Linked DNA regions of Homo sapiens: regions 1, 2, 4 and 5 are each linked to region 3. Evidence: fine-mapped expression QTL. A gene starts in region 3. Each other region holds a variant in brackets. All regions are shown on one strand. Distances are between the middles of the regions.

Region 1 (5,848 bases), 21 kb before region 3:
AGTGGGCCAAGACTGTGCCACTGCACTCCAGCCTGGGCGACAGAGTGAGGCCCTGTCTCAAAAAATAAAAAATAAATAAAAATAAATAAAATCATGTTGGCATGGTGATCCAGGGATGTACAAAGGCAGAACTTTTTGTTTTTTTAACTATCACAACTGACACATAAATATTTTTGTTCTTTCCAAAGAAATAACCACAGAGACTCCTGACTTATTGTCATTACCCACAACCTTTGACTCAGTTACGATAAATCCATCTCCCCTGAGCACAGTTATGAGATCTGGAAACAGCTGAAAGCAACCCAGAGCCACAGTGGCAGCTGAGGCAAGGGAACTGCACTGGCGAACACCATTTTTAGTCAAAAATGAGAAAAGACTATGAAGCAGGCAGACCTCTACTCTACTGTGGCTTATAACTTATTCTGAAGGCAATTCCAGAAAAGGAGCCTTGAAATATTTTGAGCAATGGCAGCACTGTTGTGAAAAAGAACCTTGCCATTCGTGGAGATATGTACTTGGAGATTCCTGGGGTTTTTTGTTGTTATTGGTTTGTTTTTGTTTGTTTGTTTTGGTTTGTTTGTTTTTTGAGGAGTCTTGCTCTGTCGCCCTGGCTGGAGTGCAGTGGTGCAATCTCGGCTCACTGCAACCTCCGTCTCCGGGGTTCAAGCAATTCTCCTGCCTCAGCCTCCTAAATAGCTGGGATTACAGGCACATGCCACCACGCCTGACTAATTTTTGTATTTTTAGTAGAGGGGGGGTTTCACCATGTTGGCCAGGCTGATCTTAAACCCCTGACCTCGTGATCTGCCCACCTCAGCCTCCCAAAGTGCTAGGATTACAGGCGTGAGCCACCGCACCCGGCCAGATTCCTGTTTTTAAAAATGCATCTTTAAAGTCACATTGTATAGAGTGACACTGAAGTATGGTCATTTGTTTCTTGGTTTATTGTGTGTGCACCAGCTAAGAAGGAAGAAAAAAATTAAACGTGTGCTATGTCTTAGCCTTTGTAGCCATTTGCAAGGAGGGGTGCAGTAACTCTCGGGCCACCAGAATACCCTTGTGACCACAATGTTAACTTAGAGCTAAAGCGTGACTTTGCCACTAAACATCTTTCAGCCCCTGAATAGCCAATTACCTGATTTACTTTAGCTCTGGCCTGATTTCTACTAATATTTAGGGCTGAAGTAAATAATGAGTGAAGTATTACTCTTGCAATTGAAAAAAGTTAAAAATGCACAAAATGACAGTACACCTCACAAATTAGTCCTTAAAAATATCTTCTCTGACAAATCTAGTTTGTATGTTTTAGGCCTCACTAGATCCAATGTAGTAACAACTGTCAGATATATGGTGTGTTATGCTTTTTAATAATATCAACTGGTATTGCGCACATCAGGACTTCACAGAGGTACATATGCAGGAGGACAAGACTCAAAAGAAATGCACAAAAATCAGTAACAGTTGTATTAGGATGGGAGGACAAGGGCCCATTTTTTTCCCAAAAAAAGTCTTTATATTTGTTATGTCAACTTTTCAATAACACAAAGCATCTTTCTCACCATGGATGCTACATTTCAACTGAGATGTTTATGTTCTGAATACTGGATTCTTCTCTCTCTCACACAAGAGCCAAGGGTGTTTCGGCTTTGTGTTCCAAAAGCCTCTAAACTAGAGAACAGGCCTTTGAGCCAAATCCAGCCCACCACTTATTTTAGCAAATAAGGTTTTATTGGAACAGAGCCATGTCTATTTGTTTACATATTGCCTAGGGCTGCTTTTATGCTGCCATGGCAGAGTTGAATTATTTACTATCTGACTCTTTACAAAAAAACCTTTCTAACCCCTGTACTAAACCAAAGAGTAAGCACTCCAGCACATGGGAAACTCATTAATGCACCATGGAAGAGACTCCCAAAGGTCAAATGTCATCTCTAAAGGGTCAGGGCCCTAGAAGACACTTCCAGTAATTGTGATCCAAAGTAGCAGTTCAAGAGTGGAGACGCACGCAATGGAATCACACATGCTGCATTTGCCAACAAGCCAAGGTCCAGGCAAGAACAACTCTCAATTAAAGAGTGCTCTGTCCTAAAGAAATGCTACGAGATATCGGCTCACAGAGAAAAGTCTCAAATTTTTAATGCAGTCTAATCAAATTTAGCCAGGTCCCTTCCTGAATTTACAAGTCCACCTTCTCTTTTTGCAGCACTATAAACAGTGTACTATCTACTGATAGATCAGAAGCAGTCCTAAAGGCCAGTTCTGTATTCATAACCTGGAAAATAAAATAAAAGCAACTTTGTCTACTGAAAACTACTGTTAAACCCAGTCTTTTTGCTATATATCAGAGGAAATTAGCATGAGACTCAGAGATAAGATATCCCAAACACAATCTGTTAATACCCCAGGATCACTGGGTTCAAGGAAGAGCTCTCTGCACATTTTGAAGTTTTCGCCATCACTCAAAGCAGCTAATACATAAGCCAGAACATCAGATGAGTCTCAGGGCATCAGCTAGATAATGAGAAGCCAGCGGGTATTCTTTGCTATATAACAAAACACAAGGCAAAAAGACCATTTTTAGCATCACCTTTCTGGAGTTTTTCCAAAACTGACTGAGAAGCATATT[C/T]TGTTTCTTGTTCTAACTCAGCGACAAACTCCGTGTGTAACTTTGAATTAAATGTCATCTATTTGAGGCAGTTTCCTCACCTGTAAAACAGAACTTGGGCAAGTTCACCTGAGCACCTTCAAGCCTCAGAATAATGCTCCATGAAAGAAAATGTTAGCCTCCCTCTCCCCTTGACTAGGTTATTTTGGTTTATTGTGAAAAACACTTGCAGAAAAAGGATACAGGAAAAATGCCAAAATTATTCCTGGATTGTGACGTGGCCACTGTGCTACTTAAAATCAGGTTCTCTCAAATGCAGAAAATGAAAGTTGCCTATCAGTGAAGAAAAACAAAACTCTCCCTCTTAGGTCTGATGTACTCCATGGAAAAATGTCCTTCCAAACTCCCTGAGGCAGGGAAGACTATCTTAGCACTTTGCTGAGTGCTTAAGAAATTACGTACCGAAAAACTTCCCTGATCTTGAAGCAGCTCACAGTCTGGGAATCTGGCAGATAGGGAGTCTCAGAGATCGCTTCTGAACTTTTACCAGCCTCCCAAAACAGCACCTCATCCCTGGGCCCCTGGGTGCCAAAGGAATCCTTCAAAATAAGGCTGGATCCAGCCACACTCCGCTTGTCACTCAGACCCTCAGCTTCCCTCACCACGTTCAGTAATACAATGTGAAATGAAACAAACCAGAACCCTGCATTCAGGGTATTCACATTCACAATAACAAGGGCATTTGCATCAATTAGGATTATAAACAGACTGTGGAAATGAGATGCAATAGGGGAACCAGTTTAAATATTTTGTTGTCTGGCCAAATTCCTTATTCAGATCCAATTGACCTAAATGAGAAAGCAAGGCTAAAATGGACACCAGAAGGTTGCAAGCTAGTTTACATAACACAGGCCCTCCCCAGCTTAAACTATCCATTTCCAAGTAAAAATGGAAGTTAACCCTTTCTCCTCTACGTCTCTCTCTTCACAAGCTCAGAAACCAGAAGAGCATCTCTGAACCTTCCCCACTCTGGAAACTGTTGCAAGAGACTGTGCAACCCACTTCTCCCTCAAGGCCATCAGCCATGTGCCATCTGTGCCCCTACCCCACCCTACAAATGCTCACCACCAGGAGAGAATTACCAGCACTCTCTCTTACAGAAAAACCATCCTCTTTATCCTCTTTAATCCTTATTCCTCCTTTAAAAGGGAAAATAGATTACAAGGTCTAAAAACCTGACCTACAAAGGGTTAAAACCAAACTGCTTGAACCTCAAAGCTGCCCAAAAAATGGTGTAAACCACCTAGCAGCTCACAAATTCCCCAAGGGACCTCCTTCTGTCAATGTTTAACCAAGAAGCTACAGCCTTTTTTTTTTTTTTTTTTTTTTTAACTTGCCAGAGCCATTCTACATCAAATATTCTTCATGTGCAACCCACTCCATAAAGAATGAAGCTATTCTATAACAAATCAAGTTCTGAAGCTCTCCAAACCCACTCTTTGGCTCAACAATCAAATATGGAGCACCACCTAAGCAAACACGAGCCCTGTACTGTCCTTGTGGGTGAGGCTAGATCACGAGTCACCAAACAAGAATGTGGTGGTAGAACCTAAATTTGAGGGATCTGCAGTGCCCAGGAAGCCAGGGAAGGCTTCAGGAGAAAAGTGAGCTCCCAGGGCTCGGAAAGCTAGCGTCTCTGATTTTATTTTAGTAGACAGATACTATTTTTAAAATGTAAAGTATCATTAAAAAGGCTGTGCATGTGTTGGAGTAGGGGAGACATGGGAACTCTATATTTCCAATTTTGCTGGGAGCCTAAAACTGCTCTATTTAGAGAGTGTGTGTGTTAATAATGTTAATAATGCTAATAATGCTGGGAGGGGGCTGGGCTAATTATTGGTGTCTTTTGACATTTGTATTTTATTTATTTATTTTTTAGAGACAGGGTCTCACTCTATTTCCTAGGCTGGAGTGCAGTGGTGCAATCATAGCTCACTGCAGCCTTGAACTCCTGGGCTCAAGCCATCCTCCCATCTCAGCCTCCTGAGTATTAAATTTCATTTTAAATGGCATATATTCTAGTGTATAATTATAATCTTTACAGAAATTAATTAATGTACACCAGCAGATGTTCCTGTTATATTTCTAAAGGTTCCCTTTCAAGATAATTGCTATTAATTACATTTAAATAAGTTCTCTAATTTTGGCATCACCAGTTTTGTTTTGGTTTTTTTTTTTTTAAGAGTTTTTTTTGGCAGAGGGGAGGGTTGCTTTTTTTTATTTTTATTTTTTGAGACGGAGTCTCGCTCTGTCGCCCAGGCTGGAGTGCAGTGGTGTGATCTCAGCTCACTGCAACCTCTGCCTCCTAGGCTCAAGCAATTCACCTGCCTCAGCCTCCTGGGTAGCTGGGATTACAGATGCCCACCACCACGCCCAGCTAATTTTTTTGTATTTTTAGTAGAGATGGGGTTTCATCACGTTGGCCAGGCTGGTCTTGAACTCCTGACCTCAGGTGATCTGCCCACCTTGGCCTCCCAAAATGCTGGGATTACAGGTGGGAGCCACCGCGCCTGGCCGGCATCACCAATTTTGGATTCGAGGTCCTGTAGCCTACTATTAACACAGATAACAACTATAATTCTGTTGAATAAATGATTTTCTAAGCAAATAACAACAATAAAGTTATTTCATGGGTATAGTTTCAATTTGGGATGATAAAAAAGTACCGGACATGAAAAGTGGTATTGGTTTCACAACAGTATGAATATACTTATGCCACCAAACTGTACACTTACAAATGGTTAAAATGGTAAACTATATGTTCTACATATTATAAAAGTAATGAAACACTATTTTTTTTTTTGAGATTTCACCATCTTTAAATGGGAACCAGCACAGGAGAAGTGCCATAAATACTCTGCCTGATTCCAGGGGGCTTTTACCCGCAAGAAATGTACAGTTAGGGTTTCAATCGCTCCCATTACACTAAGTTGTAACGCAAGCTCCCTGAGACAAAACTTTTCCATTTGGCTGTTTTCACAAAGACCACAGGAGCACATAAAGTCTTGTCTAGGGGAGCAAATCCAAATCACTTGGGTGCAAGGTAAATGCACAAATGGGAAAAGCCAATGCCAAAATCACTGCTGCTTTGATAGCATTCACTAAACAAATATTGAGTACCTACTATGCGCCAGGCACTGTGCCAGAACTTAGGTCTAATGCCTGATCTCCTGGATCTTGCAA
Region 2 (6,225 bases), 89 kb before region 3:
GAACGTAAACCAGTATAGCAATTATGGAAAACAGTATGAATACTCTTCAAAGAACTACAGGTACAGCTACCATATGATCCAGCAATCCACTACTGGGATTTATGCAAAGGAAAGGAAATCAGTGTATTGAAGAGACATCTGCACCCCCACGTTTAGTGCAGCACTATTCACAATAGCCAAGATGTGGAATCAAGCTGGGTGTCCAACAACAGATGAACGGATAAAGAAAATGTGGTCTATATACACAATGAAACATTATTCAGCCTTAAAAAAGAATGAAACCCTGTCATTCTCAGCAACACAGATGGAACTGAAGGACACTATGTTAAGTGAAATAAGCAAGGAACAGAAATTTAACCACCACATATTCTCTCACTCATGTATGGAAACTTAAAAAAAAAAAATTGACCTCCTAGAAATAAAAAGTAGAATAGAGGATACTAGGGGCTGGGAAGGGTTGGGGGAAGGGAGGGATAGAAGGAGATTTGTTAAAGGATACAAACTTATAGCTAGACGGGAGGATTTCTAGCATTCTATAGCACAATACAATGATGCTAATGAATAATATATAGCTTCAAATAGCTCGGAGGAGGATATTGCATGTTCCCAGCACAAAGAAATGATAAATGTTTGAGATGATGGATATGCTAATTACCCTGATATGATCATGGTATGTTGTATGTCTCAAAACATCACTATGTAGCCCATAAATATGTACAATTATGTGTCAATTTAAAACTTAATAAAAATAATGTTTCTTAAAGTTTGGTCCAGTTGCTCTCTGCTTCTCAATCAGTTGAAAAGCTTGTTGAAAATGTGGATTCTGACTCTCAACCTACACCTAGAGGATCTTTGTGAAGGTCAGGAAGTCGGAAATGTGAATTTCAAGAAGTTTTCCAAGTGATTCAGAAGCACCCTCAAGTACAAAAAACAGTGCAAAATCAGAGTCAAAATAAAACCTTCCGTTATTCATCACCCTGTTTTCCATCTGGTATGCCAAGCATTTCTCTCAATCATTCATTCAAACACCTGAGCACCCACACACCCATATAACCAAGATGAATGTTATTTAAGCATTAGCCAACCTCATTTTGTCTTAGTCAAAAACAGCCAAACCCCAGCTTTCCTAAATCACAGCAGCCCAGACAGTGGATTTCTTGGTTTTGTCACTCTGGAAGTGTTTTTGAGAAAGGTTTAAAGACATTGTTTGAAATCACCTGGCATCGAGTTCCTGCATAATGGGATCATCACCTGGCATTATGAAGGTGCTCACTTGAGCAGAGGGGCTCCAGGGGCCAGGCTGAGTGAAGCACCTCAAGATTAAGAGCCACCAGCCTGAGAGGCTGCTGCTTTGGAGACCTCATAAAGCACCAGAATAAGTCAAAGTGAACTTTTAACTCAAGATTTGATGCACTGAGCTTGGATTTGATCTATGATGAGACTCGATCTGCTTTTAAAGACTAGTTGATTTAAGCCCGAAAGAACTGAGACCTGTCTTATGAGAATTAATATAGGCTTTCACAATATTGCCTCATTTCCCTCTGAACTATTAACTCTTGAGTTTCTGGTGTCTTTAGGTGAAAATTTCGATACCAATCTGCGTCTTAATGCTCACAAATTATATCTTATTCTTGATACTGACGATGTTGGAACTTACCTGGAAATGAGCTAAGTCCTGATTCACGTCTCTGCTTTGTACTATAACACACCCATCCTGAAAGTCACGCTGAAAAAATTCTGATACTAGCTAAAGCCCTGGGGTAAAAGTGGGTGAGCAACCCCAGTTTAGTACCCACCAAGAGCAAGAGAGATGGGAGCTGTCCTGTGGAGGCCAGGAGAAGCAAACCCAATCATCAACAAGCCCCATGGCTCAGCTTTTTCCCTAAACATCAACTAAGTCTCTAAATTCCACCGTCCCTGAATTCAAAGTGTCCTTTACTTTTTCTCTAGGGGCAACAAAGCATAGAGGAAGGTAGTGTGATTCGGCAGTCAGAGACCTAATTATGCCCTAGGCCAGGGGTTTTCAGACTTTGCCCACATCAGAATCACCTGGAAGTTGGTTAAAACACAGCTTCCTGGGCCCCTCCCCCAGAGCTTATGATTCAGGAGGTCTGGGTGGAGCAGGAGAATTTGATTTCTAACAAGTTCCCAGGTGATGCTGATGCTGCTGGTAGGACCACACTTTGGGAACCACTTGTTTTCATTTTTGTGACCTCGGGCAAGTTCTTTATCCACTCTAAGACTTGATTTCCACATTTGCAAAAACAAAAAGCTGGCTAATTCGCTCTTGCAGTCCATCCCACCGTCTCTGTGCCCAAAGGTCTGCCTGCTTATAAAACAAGAATTTCCAAATGTTCATATCACATTCCTAAATGCAGACAGTAAATCAGATCTGATGCTGATGCTCATATTGCATTGTATCAGCAGTTTACTACAATGCCAACAAGACAGAACTTGAGAGCTTGTGTTTGCCATTTTTGGGGGGTGCCAGTGCCACGGAAATATTATTTGGCAGGGGCTCACACTCAGCTGTCAGTGTGGTCAACTGTACATAGGTTCTGTGATATGAATAAAGCACTCTGGATAAGTTTATTCAGGTAATGGTTAAAGAGAAGAGAATCCATATAAAAGCTCAACAATGTTTTGAAGAGGGTAGCTCCAAGTCCCCAAACTAAGTTTTATTTGTAAGAATTCACTCATTTGTTTTCGGAAAAATTTTTACTATCTGCTATGAGCCAGGTATTGTGCTAAGGATACATGTGGTATGGGTGACAAAGCCCCTATTCTAACGGGGGAGGGAAGCAGAGAATAAAATATTCACTAAAATGAGTGCCAAACTCTGGCTGTGATTGTGTGTTGTAATAGAAGTGAGTCAATTAGTAGAATTTGACTTACTAGGGCCTGTCTGGAGACGGAGGAACTGAGATCTGAGGTGTGAAGAAATGGACTCGGGGAAGAGGAGAGGAGAGAGTTCCAAGCAGAGGAAGGAGCACGTGTATGGCCCTGAGGACGGAGTGGGGAGAGGGAATGGAGAAAAACCAGTGTGTTTGGAGCAAAGAGAAGGAAAGAATGTGTGTTATCAGATGGGGCTAAAGACGTAGGCAATGCAAACCATGCTGCGCCTACAAGGCGTGGCGGGACTTTATCCTAACATCAACCAGCGGCAGG[G/A]ACAGAACCAGAACTACTTTGTAGAAAGAGAATTCTAGCTCCAAAGTAGGGAAAGGCCAGGAAAGAAGCCAGGTGGGAGCAGAGGGAGCAGAAAGGCGGCTGCAGAGACTCGCTTTCTCTCAACGTGACGACTGGGGAGACTAACACATTCTCTCCCCAAAAAAGTCAACTATAAAACTGGACAAAACTGTCAAAAGCAACCATTTCAGAACAGTAGAAACTGACCAAACTTTGATAAGAACAAGCAGAGCTTGGGGATCATGCCTGGGCTGTCCCCAGCCTCCTCCTAGCAATGCTGACCGGTAGTTCGACTGGGGCAGCAGGGTTCTGCTGCCTGAGGGAGAGGGAGAGGGCGAGGGTGAGGGCAATTGCTCACATGATTCGGATCATCATCAGGTAAAGTGGCAATTGCAGGCAGATGCAGTGGGAAGACCAGGGGCTCCACTGGCCTGAGGTTGCTGCCCAGTTTGGAGCAAGCCACGGACCAGCAGACTAGCCAGGGATTTAATTGGGAATTTCAGGAGGTGAGAAAACCATGGGGCTAAACTTTTCATGTATCTGTTAACCGGTGGTTGAGCACAACTGCAGCAGAGACCAGAGCAGGCCCACGGCACCCATACATCCTTGGTCAACAGAGCCTATGCTCAGGCACAGGGAAGAGCGATAAAAAGTAAGAGCCAGGAAGGACACGGAAACAGCCTGAAATGTTAATGTGCTCCCTCCTAACAAGCAGATAGAGGGGCAGAGTCAAAGCCTTTCTGGCTAAAGCACAATCTCTGGCCAATCTTTGACTAAATACCAAGTATATACATGCAAAATATACAAAGAACCCTTACACCTCAAAACTAAGAGAAGCAACCCATTCAAGAAATGCAAAATATTTCATTTCACCAAAGAAGACATTTCACCAAAGAAGATACATGAATGGTTAATAAATACATGAAAAGATGCACATGATTAGTCTTTAGAAAAATGCAAATTAAAACCACAATGAGATTCCAGTTCACACCCACTAGAACAGCTATAATTAAAAAGACAATGACAAATGGTAAGGATATGGAGAAACTGGAACCTTTCCACACTCTTGGTAGGAATGTGAAATAGAACATCTGCTTGTGAAAATAAACTTAACCTACAACACATCAGTTTCACTCCTAAGAATCTACTAAACAGAAATTAAAACAAATGTCTACACCAAAGACTTACATGCGAATGTTAAAGCAGTATTATTCATAGTAGCCAGAAACTGGAAATAATTTAAATGTTAACTGGTGAATGGATAAAGAAAATGTGGCATATCCATCCCATGGCATACTATTCAGCAATAAAAGTACAACATGGATGAACCTCAAAAACATTATGCTAAAGGAGCCAGATGAAAAACACTACAAATTGTATCATTCTATTTATATAAAACGTCCAGCAAAGGGAAACAGAGAGACAAAAAGATAAGTGGTTGTCTGGGGCTAAGGGTGGGAGCAGGATTAGCTGCAAACTGCTTACAGGGATTATTTTATTTTTTTAAAAAAATGTTGGTGTTAGAAATATTCTCAAACTGAATTGTGGTGATAGTTACAAAACTATATAAATTTACTAAAAGTAACTCAATTGTATACTTACAATGAGTGAATTTTATAATGTTTAAATTATACCTTAATACAAGTGATATCTACAGTGATCCTGGCAATAGCCTAGACCAAGGTGGTGATGGCAGAGTTTCAGTTGACAAGATTTGATGAGGCAGGAATTCAGTTTTGGGAATGCTGCATTTGAAATACCTTACTCCAAGAAATGTCACTTAGCCGTTGGATGGATGAATCTGGAGCCCAGGAGCGGTCGGAGTTGGAGATGTGAATTTGCAAATCATCTGCAAATAAGTAGAAATTGAGGCCACAGGCATAGATGAGATTGCCCAGAAAGAGGAACAAGGAGGACAAGGGGAGGCAGGAAGGAACGGGCCTGGGACCAAGACTTGAGGAATTCTAACATTAAACAGGGAAAAGAACAGAGAAAACAAGGCAGAGAGGAAAACCAGAAGCACAGAAAGGACAGAGTGACCATGTCAAATGCTGACAAAGTGTCAGTAAGAACTGAAACATCCTATTTGTGACCATACACTCATCTGTTTATTTCTAGATTCATGGATTCCCATGGCCCTAATTTATTGTCAAGCAAATCCGTTTTTGTTTTGTTGTTGTTGATGCAGCAAGCCCAAGAGAAAGGAAAAGAACTTCTCTTCCAAACACGTATTGCCTAAATCCACCAGCTATTTTCCAACATCCTCATTCCATTTTTACTGGGAGGAGTGGAAACATTATTGGGTTGAAGCCAGGATCTGAATTTCAGCTCTGCCACTGATTGATTAGCGGTCTGAAACCAGGTGTGGCAGAGACAGACTACTACCCACTAAATACCTATTTCCCTTCTCTCTCAAGAGAACGCTAGTTTTTAGTCGGACACAACATGCTATGCCGGAATATCTTTCCCAGCCTTCCTTTCACTTAGATGTGATCAATTGACTAAGTTCTAACTAATGAGGAAAAATGCTGTCGTATTACCTTCCCTCCCTCCTCCACTTGCTTTTTAGAAGATGAATGCAATGGCTGAAATTCCATGCCACACTCTAGGGATGGTGAAGCAGAAAGCTGGAAGGAGCATGGGTCTCTGATTTCTGTGGAATCCCCAAACCAACCCGGAAAAGCTACCTCCAAACTGCTTTTATGTGACAGAACATAAATGCTGCATATTAGAATTCTCTGCGGCCTTTTTTTTTTTTTTTTTTAGACGGAGTCTCACTCTGTCGCCCAGGCTGGAGTGCAGTGGTGTGATCTCGGTTCACTGCTAGCTGTCTCCCGGGTTGACGCCATTCTCCTACCTCAGCCTCCCGAGTAGCTGGGATTACAGGCACCCGTCACCACGCCCGGCTAATTTTTTTTTTTGTATTTTTAGTAGAGATGGGGGTTTCACCATGTTAGCCAGGATGGTCTTGATCTCCTGACCTCATGATCTGCCCGCCTCAGCCTCCCAAAGTGCTGGGATTACAGACATGAGCCACCG
Region 3 (6,225 bases):
GCCTTCCTAAGGGCATGAGGATGAGGCTACAAATAAAGGCAGAATATGATGCCAAGTGTTAAAATATAAGTTTTACAGCAACTTGAGAACATGCAAGAGGACACCAGGGTACAAACTGTTAGTGGGTGATTGGTATTAAGTCCTGGGAGCTGGTGAAGAGCACTACAATTGCACAGCAGCCTGAGAGGATGAACCAAGAACTTGGTTGCTATAGATTTGTCATTAACTGTGGGCACTTTGAAAAGAACTGCCAAAGGAAGATGCTATGAGGCCCAGAAAGAAAGGCAGCAGGAATCAGTTGGCTAACTATTTGTACTAAGGCATTTCCCTGGACCAGGGAAGGGTGGTAGCTCCAGCTCCTAGAACAGTTCCTGCCACATAGTAGGTGCTCAATAAAACAGTCTGTGAATAGATAATTGAACAAATGAATACATTTTCAAAGTTTCTATTTTTATCCTCTTCTCTCTTCCTTTTCACTAATCCATCTGTCCCTTCATAAGACCCCTAGAGAAGGGAGAATTTTGCAAGCACAGAGTCATCGTAATCTTCTCCAAACCACTAATGGACCCTCAGCCATCGTTCAAAGAACAAAATGTGGGAAATAGAAACCCTGACACTGAGATGTTAACAATTACAGACGATGCTTATGGAGTCAGTGGTAGACTTGGAAAACGGTGAGTCTACTGTGGTAAGAACAAACATAGGCAGACAGCTATAAATTGCAGTAAACAAACTCAATAAAGATGAGACATCACTTAAGCATGCTCAGGAGTGTACTTAATACCACATTTCACCTAGGTAGCCTGCTATCACGTAGGTATTATTATTGGCATTAAATGTGCTTCTTCTCAACCTTGCCTCCAATCTAAACACCACAATGGGTTTAAAATAATGCAAAAGAATGTTACTCCAATGCCTCCTAAATCCACTCCAAATAACAAATCCTTTAATACAGACTGCAAGGTAAAATATTGTTCCCCAGCAAGTAAATAATAAAATAACTGTAATCCAGGGTAAAAGCTTTGCTGGCCTCATAATCTACTTGAAGAAAAAGCATTAAGTGATTGCTCAACACACCAACAAAATGCTGTTACTGACAAGGCACCTTGAGTTGCCATTAACGAGACATAATTACCAAGAACTGAAATCAGATTTAGTCATCTCATATCTCCCTCTACCTACGCATTCTACCTATTCTTTTTCAGCTTTCACGAATTGAAAGGGGAAGGGAGAGGCAACAGCAGACACTAGGACTATTTTGAGAAATAAAAGGATTCAAAAGTTAAGTGCAACTTCCACTAACATAGTAACACATCTCCCAGGAAGCCCAGGTGACTCAGAAAGTCCTATATGTAGAATATCAATATAGAAACAACTCAGTTTCCATACTTCAAAAGACCTCTTCCTCCAAGTTGAGTTTCGTGCAGATAACTGGCTGATATGTTTCAGATGGAAGCAAATCTGAACATTTCCAAACAATCTACAGGAAGAGATAACCAAGTAATATAGTCCATGCAGCAGAGATAAGCAACTTTCCAGGGTATAATTCAAATCTCACAAACATCCTTAAGAGCCCCAAGTCTATTAAGATCTGGAGACTGTTAAATAGGCAGGACAAAATATCCCACCAACCACCTCTCCAAAAAGCATTGTTCTCCTCGCACTGACACTTGTATTTCCCTCTGGCTTGTTTTTGGAAAACAAATTGAAAAAAAAAACAAAAACAAAAAGTAAACAGTAGTGCCACATCTGTTCTTGTCTTCCTCACGATGGCAGATCACACACACTACCACCATTCCAAGTGCCTCCTGAGCCCCTTTCCTCGACAGCCCCATCCTTCCACGTGTCCATAACTAGGCTTCTCAACTGCAAGGGGGAAGTGAGCAGGAAACTTCAAATGGGACCTGAAGAGGAAATAATGATAATAATGTAAATTGCTACTAATATTAAAAGGGGGAGGGTATTTTTTCTTTCTTTTTATTATTTTATTTTATTTTATTTTATTTATTTATTTTTTTTGAGTCGGAGTCTCGCACTGTCGCCCCGGCTAGATTGCAATGGCGCGATCTCGGCTCACTGCAACCTCTGCCTCCGGGGTTCAAGCGATTCTCCTGCCTCAGCCTCCGGAGTAGCTGGAATTACAGGCGCGCCGCCACGCCCGGCTAATTTTTTTTGTTTTTAGTAGAGACGGGTTTTCACCATGTTGGCGAGGCTGGTCTCGAACTCCTGACTTCGTGATCTGCCCGCCTCGGCCTCCCAAAGTACTGGGATTACAGAGGTGAGCCACCGCGCCCGGCCTCTTTCTGTTTTTAAACAAAACTTCCATTACAAACATCGGAGGCTGCAAGGCACAAACTGGGGCAGGAGTATGCACAGTCGCCCAGGATGACAAGTGGCAGGTTTTTTGTTGATGGTGGTGGTGTTCTGAAACACCAAACTTTAAAATGAACTGTTACTTAGAGAATTACTGTAATCGGAGCGGACGTGCTAACGCTTTTTCACCCCGGCACAAAGCACGCCCCTTCTGCCTCCCTTTCCCAGTCATTCTTCAGGCGTGCGGGAAACCGCGGACAAGCAGAGCACGGGGACCAGCACGATCCTCCTGCCACCACTCCAGTCTCTGCAGGTGCCAGCATAGAAGAAAACCAGGGCTCTCGCCTCCCTCCCCGCCACTGCGGTGCGGTCCCGGGGTGGAGCCACGGCGCGCCCCATCCTGAGAACCCCACCTGGAGGGGAGCAGGGACGCAGGAAGGGCACCGTTGGGAGGCATCACTGGGTTCGCTGAAGGCACAATCGCGCGCGCACACACATACACAGACACACATACACACACGCACGCACACACACACACACACACACAGCGGCGCGCGGTGGCGCGGGCGGCTGGCGCGTTACCTGTTCTGCCAGCCCTGGAGGAGGTTGGTGTATTTGCTGAGCACGCCCTCGAGCGCCGGCTCCCTCCTGCGGCCGCCTCCCCCGGACGGGCTAGCGGCCACAGAGCCCGGGCTGCTGCGGCTTCCCCCGCCGCCGAGCCCGGCCGCCGCCGACCGGCTGGAGACCCCCCGGCCCGCCAGAGAGCAGGAGGGCGAGGAGCCCGCCGAGGTAGCACGGCTGCTGCTGCGGCTGCTGCTGTTGCTACCCCCGCCGCCGTCTGTGCCCTGGACTGCCCTCTCCATGGTCCGTGGGCGCCCGGGACGCGGGTGCCCGCCGCGGTGGCGGCCCCGGCACGGCGGCTGCTGCTGCTGCTACAGCTCCGGACGCCCGGGCCGCGCGTGCCTGCTCCAAATCCCCGGGAAATGCCTGACTCATACAGGAGGAAGAGGAGGAGGAGGCGAAGGAGAGCTGGGAAGGAAGCCAACGGGGCTGGATGCAGCTGCGGCCGCCCCTCCTCCCGCCGCGGCCAGGGCCCGGCCCCTCCCTCCGCACTAGTTTCCCGGGCAAGTTCGGAGCGGGTGGCCGGCTAGGCGAGCCCTCTTCGGGTTCCTCCTTCTCTTCCTTCGTGTCCCTGCGGCCTCTCAGGCCCTCGGGACACTCTAGGAGGCCGATCTGCAGGGTGGGCACGCCCTAAATCCACGCCAAGTCACCCACGCATTCCTTCTGCCACCCTCTCTTGGATCCGAAGGGGCGAAAGGGAATCTCTGCACGTCACTCCCCACCCCTTATCCACCTCGGGACCTGGAGGGAGGGGCAGCCCCACCCACCCGGTCCACCCGGATATGGACCCGCCCGGCCTGACAGGCTCACACGCACACTCCCTCTCTCGGTCTTCCGCACACGATGCTGCGCCAGACGCTCCTACACAGTAACCTGGAAATTATCACCGGCGGAGCAAAGTCACAGCTCAGGGAGGCCCTCCGCGTTGTCTGGCGGAGGAGGGGAGTGGCAGGTGATCCTCACAGGTAAGCTCGCCGGGCATTTTCATGCAGCAGGATTATGATAAATGCTTAACAGACACACGGCTGGGCTGGGGTGAGGCGCGCGAACTCTCAGGTTTGTGCGAGTGCTTCCTTAAATTGAGTGTCCTAGGTCACTCACTGGCCTAACCCTAATCCCCTGCCCTGAATGGCACGCATAAACCTGGCAAGTCAAAACCTATCCATTGCTACCACACTGCACGTGCACCTAGGAGCAGAGGCTCTGAAACCGGGAAAACTGCTCCAGAGGCAAGGGAAATTAACAGATATTTACAAACATTGAAGGATTCTCTGTGTTGGCTGTAACTTCTGCGCCCCTCTTCCTACCTAAAGATACTCTTTCTATCCCACTAATATTTTTTGTGAATATAGATATCCATTGTAATCTGAAGTATCAAAAATTACCTAGAAAAAAGCTTTGAGGAACTCAGACTCTCTCTCTCACACACACACAGACAAAACAAAAGGTGATAGATGATAGGTGATCTCCGTCCAAAGGATCTACAAACCCATCAAGCAGATAAATACTTCAAGAGTTAAAAAAAATTACTAAATGGAAAAGTCAGCTCTCAAAGGGACAGTTCCCCGAGCCCAACCCCTTTCTAGCTTCACATCCTTCCAGGAAGATTTCATGGGTGGTTTAGCTCTAGAGATGCACGGAGAAGCTTCTGGAGTTGAAGAGAAGTGGTTGTGCCCCTGAGTAAATTACAATTCCAGGTGCCTACATAGTGTTAAAAAAAAAAAAATCTGAAAAGAGCTTGCCTGGACCAAATTTGAAGCCATTCAGAGCTGAATTCTAACCTATGACCTTGATCAAATTACCTCTTTTAGCCTTAGTTTTCTCACTGCAAAATGGGACAAATGATACCGGCTGTAATAAACTATGCAAGAATGTTCATTTGTTCAAAATATTTACTGCCGCTTCCTATGGAAAGAGTATCCTTCCTCCACATGGACCTTAGGCTTGGCCATGGAATTGCTTTGAGCAATGGAATGTGAACAGAAGTAATGAATGCCCCTTCCAAACATAAGCTTTAAGAGCAGTCATATGGTTCCACCATCTTTCTCTTTTCCTTATCCCAGGAGAGCAGCATGTCCCGGATAAGGACTCTCCTTAAGCTTGTGTCCTGGAGTGAGAAGGTGTGGAATACAGCAGATCCTAAGCCAGTTAGTGTTGGCCATGTAACATGCACAAAATGTTTGTTTGAAGCCATTGAGATTTTAGCATTATTTTTTACCACAGCATAGCTTTGCCTAAGCTAACTTACTGATCATATATGAGTGTTCATTGAGTCCTGCATTGACATACAGACTGAAGGTGGGAAGGTAGGTGCATACTGGACTATAAATGTCAGCATTATGTACCAAAACAACATGCCTTTTATTGGAGACTGCCACCTTAAGCTCCTGCTAAAAGAGGAGAAGTGTCATTTTATTTCATATTACCTAACCTATGCCACCATTACTCCACCTTATGCAGCCAACCTAAGACTGAATGAGCTAGCACAACAAATTCTCACCTTGGACTAAAAAATTAGACCCTTGAGATAGACCAGTTCAAGTGGGGAAGGAACTAAGCTAAAAGGAATAGTCAAGGCCAGGATGGGGCAGGAGCAAGCCAGCCGTATGGGATCAAAAATGTCCAAGAGGTGAGTGGAGCAGATGTGCTGAAAGTAGAGGCTATATCATGAAAGAGTGATGAAGCACATGCTGTTCCTCCTGCTGGTGACACTGTTCCCTGCTCTCTTCACCCGGTTTGTGTTTCTCACCCATGGAGTTATGGATTACAAGTCACTTCTTCCAGAAAGCTTTCCTTGACCTACCGTAGTATAGCAAATAGGGAAAAGGTACCTGCAGAATTATGTTTGGAGAGGAAAAAGTCTTTATGTTTGAAAAACAATTTGGAAAATACATAATAAGTTGGCAAAAAGTATTTGAAATACATACTGTAATGCCCAACAGTTTCATCTTGCTTGTTACCCGGAAAAGCCAATGCAGGTTTTTGCAATAGAGGAAGAGTTTAACAATTGTAGGGCCAGCCAAGCTGGAGCACAGGAGTGTATTATTACTCAAATCAATCTCCCTGAAAATTCAGAGCCTAAGGGGTTTTTTTTGTTTTTGTTTTTGTTTTTGTTTTGAGACTGGAGTCTCGCTCTGTCACCCAGGCTGGAGTGTAGTGGCACGACCTCAGCTCACTGCAAGCCCTGCCTCCCGGGTTCACGTCATTCTCCTGCCTCACAGCTTCCCCAGTAGCTGGGACTACAGGCACCTGCCACCATGCCCAGCTAATTTTTTTGTATTTTTAGTAGAG
Region 4 (6,225 bases), 36 kb before region 3:
CACGAGGTCAGGAGATTGAGACCATCCTGGCTAACACGGTGAAACCCCGTCTCTACTAAAAATACAAAAAAATTAGCTGGGCGTGACGGCAGGCACCTGTAGTCCCAACTACTCGGGAGGCTGAGGTAGAACAATGGCGTGAACCTGGGAGGCGGAGCTTGCAGTGAGCCGAGATGGCGCCACAAGAATGCAATGTATGGCTCAATATAAAAAGCGGGCTGAGCGCAGTGGCTCACGTCTGTAATCCCGGCACTTTGGGAGGCCAAGGCGGGCGGATCAGGAGTTTGAGACCAGCCTGGTCAACATGGTGAAACCCTGTCTCTACTAAAAATACAAAAATTAGCTGGGTGGCGGGCACCTGTAATCCCAGCTACAAGAGGCTGAGAGAGGAGAATCCTTTGAACCCAGGAGTTGGAAGTTGCAGTGAGCCAAGATCGCATCATTGCACTCCAGCCTGGGCGACAGGGTGAGACTCCATCTCAAAAAAAAAAAAAAAAAAAAAGTGACACATTTCCTCTTATACATTTTTTTTAAATCCTCCCAGATGCCTCATTACCTGCCTGGCTCCATTGTCAGCATCTGAGCCTGGCATCTGAAACCTTCAAAACAACAAACCCATTTAAAGCACAGGCATGTCTGTAGGGGTAAAAGTGAAAAGCAAAAATTGAGATAAATGAACCAAAAAGTGATAGCCACTGTCATTGAAAGTAAACACCATATGTAAAATAGCAAACACACAATTAGCTAACACAGTTTTGACAAAAAAAATTATGTCAAATTTTTTAAATCATAACATACACATAACAAAATTTGCCATTTAGTCATGTTTAGGTGTACAATTCAGTGACATTAGTTGTATTCACAATTGTTATGCAACCATCACTACTATCTATTTCCAAACCTTTTTCATCACCCCAGAGAGAAATTCTGTAACTATCAATCAATAACTCCCCATTCCAATCTTTCCTCAGCCCTTGGTATCTTCTAGTCTACTTTCTTCCTCTATGAATCTGGCTAGTATTGATATTTCATACAATGGGAAGCATACAATATTTGTCCTTTTGTAACTGGCTTATTTGACTTCTTAGCATAATGTTTTCAAGGTTCCTCCATGTTGCCACATGTATCAGAGCTACATTCCTTTTCATGACTAAATAATATTCCATTGTGCATATAAACCACATTTTGTTTGTCCATTCATCTACTGATGCACACTTGGGTTGTTTCCATTTTTGAATCTTGTGAATAATGCTACAATGAACCTTGCCATACAAGTATCTATTTGAGTCACTGCTTTCAATTATTTTGGGTATATACCTAGGAGTAGAATTGCTAGGTCATATAATACACAGTATTTTTTTTAATCAAGTACATTCAATAGTTTTAAAAAAAACTTGGACTTTTTTCCTGATTAAAAAGCAACACATGTTCATTGTAGGAAATCTGGAAAATAATTACACCACCCAGAGAAAGTCGCTGTTAATATTTCAGAATATTCCCTTAAAATCTTACTGTCTAGTTATACACATACACAGAGACAGACATACATGGATATTTTAACTAAAACTGGGTTATTTCCACTTATCATTGTATCAAGAGCATTAACTCCACTGTCATTAAATGTTCTTCAGAGGCCGGGCACAGTGGCTCATGCCTGTAATCCCAGCACTTTGGGAGGCCAAGACAGGTGGATCACGAGGTCAGGAGTTCGAGACCAGCCTGGCCAATAGGGTGAAACCCCGTCTCTACTAAAAATACAAAAAAACTAGCCAGGCATGGTGGCACGCACCTGTAGTCCCAGCTACTCAGGAGGCTGAAGCAGCAGAATCACTTGAACCCAGGAAGCGGAGGTTCGAGTGAGCTGAGACTGCACCACAGCACTCCATCCTGGGCAACAGAGGAAGACTCCGTCTCAAAAAAAAAAAAAAAAAAAAAAAAAAAAGTTCTTTAGAAACAACACTTAATATATGAATAATATTTCATCAGATAGATAAAGCATAACTTTATTAACTATTCCCCAATTTAGGCTGTTGCATATTTTCTGTGGTCATAAATAACACAGCAATGAACATTTTCATGAATTATTTCTTCTGCACTTCTTTGATTACTATTTTAGCATATCTTACAACAAGTAGAATCACTGCATCAAACAATATAACCATTGCTAAGGCTGTTGATAAAGATTACCTATTTGTCTTCCATAAAAGTCATACCAATCTATATTTCTACCAGCAAAAATAAGCAGCTTTTTTAAATGTAAAAATAAATTAATTATATAATCATAAAATATAAAAGAACAGCTTCCAAACTGGTAAACCATGTGTTAGCAATTATCTTTTCTATTAAATGATGTGGCCAGGCTAGATGAACTAAGGTTCAAGACATCTAGGAAAATGTCAAGTTTTCAAATGGCAATCCATATTTTAAACTAACAGGCCTGCTAAAGCATGGATATATTTACATATGGACATGTGGAGAGAAAGATTTATGTAAAACCACCACCTTCCTGATAGCTGTCCCCATCCCTAAATTTTCCCTTTGTCCTTTTTATACAAGCCTGAATAGACTAAGGACAACTCTAATGCCTATAATACATAATGCCTATAATACAGTGCTGTGGCACTGACTCATCTCCTTGGAGACACCTTCTTCCCAGCACATCCATCAGCCAATCTGGTTGCTTCACATGAAAAGAGTGGGTACAGGAGTTAAGGTTGCAGTGAGCTATGATTGCACCACTACATTCCAAACTGGGCAACAGAGCAAGACCCCCTCTCTTTAAAAAAAAAAAAAAAAAAAAAAAAAAAAAAAAAAAAAGGCCAGGCACAGTGGCTTATGCCTGTAATCCCAACATTTTGGGAGGCTGAGGCGGGCAGATCCTGAGGTCAAGAGATTGAGACCATCCTGGCCAACATAGTGAAACCCCGTCTCTACTAAAAATACAAAAATTAGCTGGGCGTGGTGGCACACATGTGTAGTCCCAGCTACTCGGGAGGCCACGGCAGGAGAATCACTTGAACCTGGGAGGCAGAGGTTGCAGTGAACCAAGATTGCACCACTACACTCGAGCCTGGCGACAGAGCAAGACTCCGTCTCAAAAAAAAAAAAAAAAAAAAACAGGAAGGAACAAGCCATGCTAACAAAAGGGGTGCCAGGGTCATTTTGGGAGGAGAAAATTACCTAAAATTCCCTCCCTCATCAGCAAACAAGGCGTCAAATTCCTGCCACTAGGACTCTGGTCCAAAGTTACAGTCCCCAAAGTCAACACCAGTGACATGGGGCTCCCAAAGTCACCACAAATATGCTCTAGGGACACTATCTGGACCGGAAGCCTCAAAACAAAAGTCAGTCAGTGACATACGATCCAGCCCTCAAGCCCACTTGCTTTGACCAGAATCAGGCTTTGGTTTGTTCATTGTTTTTATTTTTGGCTTTAAAAATTGTTTTGAATCAGTTGACAATCTTTAAAAATTAAGACAGCTTCTCACACAAATCTACATCTCTAGTTTCTCTTGCAATATCCAAGGATCTCAACATGGGGTCCATTCACTACACGGCAACCATAGGCCATAGCTGAGAAGCAGCTGCCCTGTCAGATGTGATGCACTCTCAGGTCTCCATGCTCCCACCTTCTCCAGA[C/T]GCTCAGGATGCCAAAGCAGAGGTCAGCAGCCCTTGACCAGAGGGGTTTATACTGCTTTTCTGACACCCTTGTTTCTGTGACACAGCCTGAGACCTGGAGAATATTTGAGCCTGTGACCCCTGGTCTGGTACGAATAACGTATCATGCATACAAATAGGGTTACTGGCCAAACATCTGCAGATCCTATTATGACTAAAAAAATCCAAACTACTTAAGGCATTACTCAATTCAGAGAACCTCTTGCCATTAGGGATTGCCTGAATCAACAGACACTACTAAGTTTTGGTTTATGCTTTTTTTTTTCTGAGATGGGTTTCACTCTTGTTGCCCAGGCTGGAGTGCAATGGCATGATCTCGGCTTACTGCAACCTCCGCCTCCCAGGTTCAAGTGATTCTCCTGCCTCAGCCTCCTGAGTAGCTGGGATTACAGGCACGTGCCACCATGCCCGGCTAATTTTTGTATTTTTAGTAGAGACAGGGTTTCACCACGTTGGCCAGCTGGTCTCGAACCCCTGATCTCAGGTGATCCACCCCCCTCAGCCTCCCCAAGTGCTAAAATTATAGGCGTGAGCCACTGCACCCAGCCACTACTAAGTTTTTTAATGAAAAGGGGGAACTCAAGTTTTTTACTTTTTCAATAATAACAAAAAAATTAGAAATCAATTAAGAATTTAAGAAAAATTAAGAATTTTATTAAGTTGTTTTTTATCAAAAAAAAAAAAAACCCTTGTATTAAGAAAAATTAAGAATTTTTTAAGTCGTTTCCTTCCTGACTACTATGTACAAAATATTAGGCTTCTATTGAAGCAATGACATAATGATGAGTAAGACCCTGCCTGGGCCCTTGCAGGCAGATGGCGGACAGCGTGTGAACAGAGCAATTGCGGGAGGCACAGCGGTAAAGGTAATGGCATCCACCTGCGAAAAGCACAAGAGCCCTCAGGAGGTGACAGGAAGCCTTTATCAAAGGACAAGGCATCTGCCCGGCTAAGGAGAGGGAACAAGAAGCAAGGCTATGACACAAGTTCAAGGTGGAGCTGGGCTTTGGTCCCATTCTAGCAGAGCTGAGACTTCCTTTGGAGGTCACAGGAAGTCACCCAAGAGTTTTTAGTGTTGCATGCTTTAGAAAAGTTACCATGGAGATGGTGTTGAGGTGCCTAGAAGAAGAGGAGCTTGGGCTCAGGGAGGCCTTAAGAAGATGATCGTGGGAGTCCAGACCAGATGCAAGGAGCATCGAAACAAAGACAAGGGCAGGAGGAGCAGACCAGAGAGGCAGCTACGGCTCAGTGGCTGTTAGATACTGACAAATGAGACGAGCAGTTATCAGAAGAGACAAAGGCAGGAGGGAGCAGACCAGAAAGGCAGCTATGCCTCAGTGGCTGGTTAGATACTAGAGAACGAGACACAGCAGTAATCAGAATGATTCACTAAATTTCAGGCTCTGACAACTCAGTGGACATCAGAAACACTGGGCCAACACAAAAAATAAAGGATGGGGAGCAGTTACTGGAAGGTAAGGGTGAGTAGGGGAGACATAGAGACCAGGATCCCATCTGCAGAAGTGTAGCAGCTCTGGATCTAGGCACGAACAAGGTCAACCCTCGGCCCAGGCTGTCCCTAAGCACACAGCACATCACCAAAGCTGGAGGTGCCAATTCCTCCACCCAACTCAGCTGAACAGCAGTTCCCACAGCATCACTAAGGCTGAAAAATTGGAATGCTATCCTCCTCACAAAGGCGGAAGCATGCTTTGTCCTCTGCCTGCCTATAGCGAGTGTCCAAATTACCAATGGCAGATCTTACACCAACATCAGAAGTCCCCTACCAGCTCCTCTTGGCCTCTGCATATGCCACCTTCCCCTACTCCACAATTCCTGCGACAGCACTGAGAAGGTACTCAGGCAGGGCATGGGGTTGGGAGGTTTGGTGGAAGTCTAAAGATGACCAACACATGAAACAAGCCCTCAAAAGAACCTAACAGATCACGGAAGACTCCTGTGGAAACACTCCACACGCTGAGCACAGTATGACAGGCTGGAGGAGAAAAATAGATAAAGAATCTGTGTTAGGTCATATTCCCTGGAGGCAGAGCCTGATGTGGCGACTCCTATGCAAATGAGTGCTTGAGGAAGTGCTCTCAGGATCCGGAGAAACTGGAAGAAGGTGAGGGAAACTGCATAGGAGTTGAGATAAGCCCAGCCTCCGTCTGATCCCACAAAAAGCTCTGAAGTAAACTGTACAAAGTTTGTGCTGCCAGGAAGCAGGGGATTGGGTTTGATACTCCCAATCGTTGACTTCACTAAGTGATGTCAGTCACTGGGTACAAGGTCACACCAGAGTGGAGGATGCAGGTTACCTCCCAGTCACCTCCAGGCTAGAGGGTTCCTCCCCTGCAGGGCAGAATCTTCCAGTGAAAGGTACAGGCATGAAGTATTAGCAGCTAACTCCCTCAATTAGTCAAGGGCTGGGTGCCCTGACCCAGTAAAGGGGATCTGTGCAGGGCACCAGCAACATCCACAATGGACAGAGTCCATTCTAGAAGTCCAGCAGAACAATATACATGCAGGGAAAGAGGGAAGGGCCAT
Region 5 (6,225 bases), 29 kb before region 3:
AGGAGAACTTCAGAATCATGGCTGGAGCCCCCACCATCCATGATGGAGTTAGAGAGTACCTCTATGGTAATGCAGGGCCAAATAAGTAAATTCCAGAGTAGCGAAATTAACTTTGTAATAAAAGACTATTTGATTATTCAGAGAAAAGGGAGCAGGTGTTTGGTAAGGTGCCAGAGAAATTCCTTAATTACCAGCCAAGTCCAAAGGAAATAAATGGTCAAATCAATTAACTCATTATTTATTATTTACTCTGTGATTAAACTTACAGATCAAGCTTCTAACAATACTAAGGGGAAGTTGGGGAAAGAGGAGTTTTAGGTTGGTTTCTTAGCCCAATGCAAATCTGCCTCAATTGTCATTCCTAAAACGCACACACATATTATTTCAGGAAGGATTGAACCAATCAACTGAAAAAACAGGAGACAAGTTAAAATAGCAACAGCTAACCTTTTCAGAGTACCTTCCATGTGCCTAAAACTGTGCAAGTAGTTGGATGCATACATCCTTCTCCATTCTCATGGAACAATTGTGCAGTACAAGAAATATAAAAGGATACTGGGTTCCGGCTGGGCACGGTGGCTCACGCCTGTAATCCCAGCACTTTGGGAGGCTGAGGCGGGCAGATCACGAGGTCAGGAGATCAAGACCATCCTGGCTAACACGGTGAAACTCGGTCTCTACTAAAAATACAAAAAATTAGCTGGGCTTGGTGGCAGGCACCTGTAGTCCCAGCTACTTGGGAGGCTGAGGCAGGAGAATCACGTGAACCCGGGAGGTGGAGCTTGCAGTGAGCTGAGATCACCTCACTGCACTCCAGCCTGGGCAACAGAGCAAGACTCTGTCTCAAAAAAAAAAAAAAAAAAAAAAAAAAAAAAAAAGGATACTGGGTTCCTACCTCACAGAACAGACACAAGTCCAGACAGATTAAAGCCTTAATTGAGAGAGGTAACTTCTGAAACTTTCAGCAGAAAATATAAGAGAATATCTCTTTAGTTAACTAGAAAAGAAAATACTCATATTCTACCACATTAAGAACCTCCTGACCTGAGGTCCCACCTATGGACTGACTTGGTTTGGATCAGAGCTAGAAGCTGCTCTCAATGAAAAATTTTAGTTGTCAGTTATGCAGTGGGTTGAAGTAGCAATCTGAGAGTTGGCAAAAATTTTTTAAAGTAGGTCTCGGTGGAAATCCTACTTATGTAGGCTTGTATTAGCTTCCAGGGTATCCGAAAAGGGCCTGTCAGGAGGGATGACTGTTTCTGCCAGTAAACTGAGCAGTGGGCAGCATAATTAAGAGAATATGGAAAAGAAGTAAGAACTTGTTTTTCAAAAGCATCACAAATAAAGTAAAAAGCCAAGCTATGAACTAAAAGGAGATATTTGCAACATAGATCCAACAAAGGATAAGTATGCAGAATATATAAAGCACTCCTACAAACCAATGCAAAAAAGACAACCTAATAAATAACTGAGCAAAAGACCCAAGCTGGAATTTCATAAAAGAGGAAGAAAGAATGACCCTTAAGCACATGAAGAGCTGCTGTCTTTCTGATAATCAGAGATACACAAATTAAGATACCAATGAGATATCATGTATACCTACTGGCTTGGCAAAATTAAGAATTCTTACTATATCAAAAACTAGAAAAGGTGCAGAACAATGCAAATGCTTATACCCTACTGGATGGCATTAAACTGGCACATCCACTTTAGAAAACAACTTAACATCATCTTATAAAATGGAACATCCAAATACCCTGAAGCCCAGTGGATATAGTTTGGATATCTGACCTCTCCAAATCTCAGGCTGAAATGTGATCCCCAATGTTGGAGGTGGAGCCTAAGGGGAGGCACTTGGGTCATGGGGGCAGATCCCTCACAAATGGCTTGGTGCCCTCCCTATGGTAATAAGTGAGTTCTCACTCTGTTAGTTCTGTTAGTTTACCAGTTAGCTCTGTTAGAGCTGGTTGTTTAAAGGAGCCTAGCATCTCCTCCTCTCTCTCTTGCTCCCTCTCGCCATGTGACATGCCTGCTCCCTCCACTTTCCATCTTGAGTAAAAGTTCCCTGAAGCCTCACCAGAAGCCAAGATGCTGGTGCCATGCCTGTACAGTCTTCACAACCATGAGCCAAATAAACCTCTTTTCTTTATAAATTACCCAGTCTCAGATATTCCTTTATAGCAATGCAAAACGGACTAACACACCAACAATTCAACTTCTACATCAACATCACAAGGAAATTCTTGCGTGTGTGTACTGGGAGATACATACTAACTTACACACAGCAGTAACACCGTTCACAGAGGAAGAAATGGTGAACAACCTAAATACCCATCACCAGGATAAAAAATTTGTGACATAGTCACACAAAGAATGTTATACAGCATTGAAAAGAAATGCACTGAAGTTAGACACAATAACGGGAATCAATTTTGGAAACAAAACGGGAAAAAAAAAAGACTTGCAGAAAACTATATACAACATCCTTTTAAAAATATAAAACTGAGAAACAAAACTAAATAATACAGAGAGATAACACACATTATTTTTGTAAAATATCTATTATAAAAATACTTTATATTATACAAAGGTGAAGGAATGATGAACTTGAAACTCAAGAGTTAGTGGTTACCTAAAAGAGGGGAGGAAAGGATTGAGTTGAAGAAGAATACTTGGGCAGATGAGCTACTAGTGGTTATATTATCCTTCCTAGAGTGAATGGTGAGCTCATGCCTGTTCATTTTCTTATGCTCTGTTACATATATGATTGCATATATTCTTTAATATAAATCAATTATATTTTTCAAATATTAGAAAAAAGCTATTTAGATCATTTATTCTATGATTGTATACAATTATAAAAATAGAAACTAATATATAAATGTTAATTTAAACTATATAATTATATATTTAAATTATATGGAGTATTTATTATTATTCCCATTTTACTGATGAAGAAACTGAGAGTTAAAAAGGTAGGATAACTTTACACATCCAGTTAAGTGAAAGTGACAAACTAAGCTTTTCATTAACTTTAAAACCCATGCTTTAACACCGTGCTATACTCTTAAGATTTCCACCAGCGAAGAAAAAAATTAGATATAATTCACAAGATTCAAGAATCCCTGCCTAAAACTCCATTAGTGTGCAACTCTTACAGAACTCCTACTATAATCTGTGCCTTCCATGAGTGGTGGGAAATGAGTATTGTTTATTAGGATTTGTTAGCTCTAAAGACAAACTTATTTACATGTTAACATATAGTCATATTAAACAAAAGACTCTTAAATTCAATGAAATTTGGAATTTATAGAAAACCTACGATAAAGCATTTTGTTTTATTTTGCAAATGCAAATAAAGAATCCTGGTGCAAAGTGGAAAGCCATGCCTTAGTACACATTAGGTGGATTAAGAAATATGTTTTCTTCAGTGAGGCAAAACTATTCAAGTGATAAATTCATCTGTTTGTCCAGGTTCTTTTCTTGTTTTCACCTTCTGAGCTTCTTTCACTTCCCTTCAAGAGTCATGTTTCCTCTCTCACCCTAGATCTTAACCAGGTGGCACTTCCTCCAAAAGAGTTCCCCACCCTACATCCAGGCGTATCCCTCGTCA[C/G]GCTCCGTGAGAGCACTTTGCATGCTGCAGTTCAACCACTGCTGTGCATCTTCTTCCTAGCCCACCAGCAACTTGGGGCAGGAACCCATCTACAATAGTCCCCACTGTACCTTCAGGCACAGCATGGGGAGCAATGAGAAGGAATCAACAACTGAATGAAGGGATGATCATACTACTATGTAAAATCCATTCACACGAAAGGATCAGAGGGAACACAGAATAGTAGGAAGGATGTGGCACTTGGAATCAGACTGACCTGTGTTAGAATGTCCCCCCAACATCAGTTGGCTCTGATATTACTAAATATTAAATATTACTAAAACCTGCCCGCCTTGTGTGGTTATTAGAATTAGTGGTGATAATATGTGTGAAGATGATTCTCTCAGGTACTAATCAGTGACTTTAAACTGTGGCTGTCGGGGAAGGGTCCTATATTCTGGTTCAACTGGTCCAGGATGGGATCTGGTGATGAAATTTTTGTAAAATCTTCCTACTTTTTTTTTTTTTTTTTTTTTGAGACGGAGTCTCATTCTGTAGCCCAGGCTGGAGTGCAATGGTGCAATCTCGGCTCACTGCAACCTCCGCCTCCAGGGTTCAAGCAATGCTCCGCCTCAGCCTCCTGAGTAGCTGGGATTACAGGCGCCCACCACCATGCCTGGCTAATTTTTTTGTATTTTTAGTAGAGACGGGGGTCTCACCATCTTGGCCAGGCTGGTCTTGAACTCCTGACCTCGTGATCCATCCACCTCAACCTCCCAAAGTGCTGAGATTACAGGCGTGAGCCAGCGCGCCCGGTCCTCAGATACTTTTAATATGCAGAAAGGTTTCAGAACCTCTCCACGGGACAGAAGCAAGGCAGGAAATAACATCTGCAGAGCCTTGCTGTGTCCAACACTCAGTTGCCACACATTATATTATTTAATACCCCCACACACACAAAGAGTGGGCACTGCTTCCCCCTTACCAAGCAGAAGTGATTCTGTTGTTGTTGTTGTTGCTGTTGAGGACAGGGTCTAGACTGGAGTGCAGTGGCTTGATCACAGCTCACTGCAGCCTCAGCCTCCTGGGCTCAAGCAATCCTCCCACCTCAGCCTCCTAAGTAACTGGGACTACAGATGCATGCCACCACACCTGGCTAATTTTTGTATTTTTTGTAAAGACGGTTTTACCATGTTTCCCAGGCTGATCTCAAGCTCCTGGGCTCAAGCAATCTGCCAGCCTCAGTCTCCCAAAGTGCTGGAATGACAAGTGTGAGCCACCACACCTGGCCACAATGGCCATTCTTCATTAACCCTTTTCCTTCTCCCTCTCAATCATGTCAATTTTCTTCAAAAAAGAGACAGCTAAACTTTCAGACAAGTCACCATACGTGAAGATGTTCAAAAGCTCTATGTGTATGTGAGGAGTGTGTGTGACAGAGAGACAGAGACAGAGAAATGAAAGAGGAGGAGAGAAGGAACTGGGGCAAGAGGCAACAGAATGACGCCTTTTTCCATCAGAGAGTTCAGCAGCTTCAGTGCTGTGGTTGATTCCTTAACATCAAAGCTAAATAGGAACTTGTTTCCAGCTCCAGTTGTTGCAGCTGACTGGTCCTATAATTTCTAGCATGCACAAAGCATGTCAAAATCCTCAACAACAAAAATCATTAAGAGAAGTCTGGGTTCATCCTTTAACCCTAGAACAATTAAATGTGTGAGGTGCCCGTGCATTGGCCCATTTGCTCCTTCTGCACATGAATTCCCATTAACACCAGTCCCAAGAGGGAAGAAAAAGGGGTCAGAAAGATGGCTGCCTGGCCAAGATGCCACAGGCCTGGAGGAGGTACTGAATTAAATGGCCTCTAAGCCCCTCAACTCTAATCCTCTACAAAGAGCCTTTGTGCATTGCTAACACTAGGCTGGAAAGGAAAAAGAAGCAACAATCCCAAGTTCCATGAGGAGGGCTTCTGGTTCTTTCTACTTGCAGCAATCAGGCATAATTTTAAAGCTAGCCGTCTCAGCAATAAAAAGGAATCCACGACTGATAAGACACAACGACATAAATGAATCCCAAAATGTTATGCTGACTAGAGGAAGCCAGACACAGTAAGTATATATTGTGTGATTCCATTTATATGAAATGCTAGAGTAGGCAAAAACCAATCTATATTGGGGGCAGGGGGAAGGATGGTGGTTGCCTGGAGTGGGGAGGAGCAAGAGACACAACAGAAGCTTCTGGGGAGATGGTAATGTTCTATGCCTTGACAGAGGTTGGGTAAAAATGCATGCAGTTGTCAAAACTTAGCAATGTACACTTAGGATTTGTGCATTTCATTGTGAAATTTTACATCAAGAGAAATAATTGAAAACAAATATTGTTAATGATATGTGTTAATGACATGCATGCTAAAATATTTATGACTATACTAATGTCAGCAGTTTGCTCTGAAATGTATAAAGAAATAAAATGGATCTATGGATGAGACAGATGGACAGACATGTAAAAAACTAGGTATAATAAAATGTCAGTTGTAGAATCCAGGTGGTAGATACTTGTGTGTTTACTGTACAATTCTTTCAACATTTCTGTATATTTGAAATTTTTCATAATAAAATGAGGGAGGGGGCAGTTAG

The links.
Region 1: its variant is fine-mapped to the expression of OSBPL10 in cerebellum (GTEx, PIP above 0.99).
Region 2: its variant is fine-mapped to the expression of OSBPL10 in unexposed skin (GTEx, PIP 0.96).
Region 4: its variant is fine-mapped to the expression of OSBPL10 in whole blood (TOPMed, PIP above 0.99). The same link has a PIP of 0.9 or more in blood mononuclear cells.
Region 5: its variant is fine-mapped to the expression of OSBPL10 in whole blood (TOPMed, PIP above 0.99).

The regions. Positions count from the first base shown.
Region 1 is chr3:31,957,076-31,962,923 of GRCh38, forward strand. All of the region lies in intron 1 of OSBPL10 (oxysterol binding protein like 10), which reads right to left. Among named protein-coding and RNA genes, the nearest start is that of OSBPL10, 21 kb to the right of the region's middle. The variant C/T (reference allele first, on the strand shown) is at 2,627.
Region 2 is chr3:31,889,203-31,895,427 of GRCh38, forward strand. All of the region lies in intron 1 of OSBPL10 (oxysterol binding protein like 10), which reads right to left. Among named protein-coding and RNA genes, the nearest start is that of OSBPL10, 89 kb to the right of the region's middle. The variant G/A (reference allele first, on the strand shown) is at 3,169.
Region 3 is chr3:31,978,004-31,984,228 of GRCh38, forward strand. OSBPL10 (oxysterol binding protein like 10) reads right to left here and starts at 3,259. Exons shown (of 12, transcript NM_017784.5): 1 at 2,896-3,259. The coding sequence starts at 3,176. It overlaps ZNF860 (zinc finger protein 860), which reads left to right and starts at 3,747. Exons shown (of 2, transcript NM_001137674.3): 1 at 3,747-3,899. RefSeq lists an enhancer at 1,345-1,394 and a silencer at 2,949-3,018.
Region 4 is chr3:31,942,054-31,948,278 of GRCh38, forward strand. All of the region lies in intron 1 of OSBPL10 (oxysterol binding protein like 10), which reads right to left. Among named protein-coding and RNA genes, the nearest start is that of OSBPL10, 36 kb to the right of the region's middle. RefSeq lists enhancers at 4,273-4,875, 4,876-5,477. The variant C/T (reference allele first, on the strand shown) is at 3,640.
Region 5 is chr3:31,948,823-31,955,047 of GRCh38, forward strand. The region is part of intron 1 of OSBPL10 (oxysterol binding protein like 10); the gene reads right to left. Among named protein-coding and RNA genes, the nearest start is that of OSBPL10, 29 kb to the right of the region's middle. RefSeq lists an enhancer at 3,688-3,737. The variant C/G (reference allele first, on the strand shown) is at 3,614.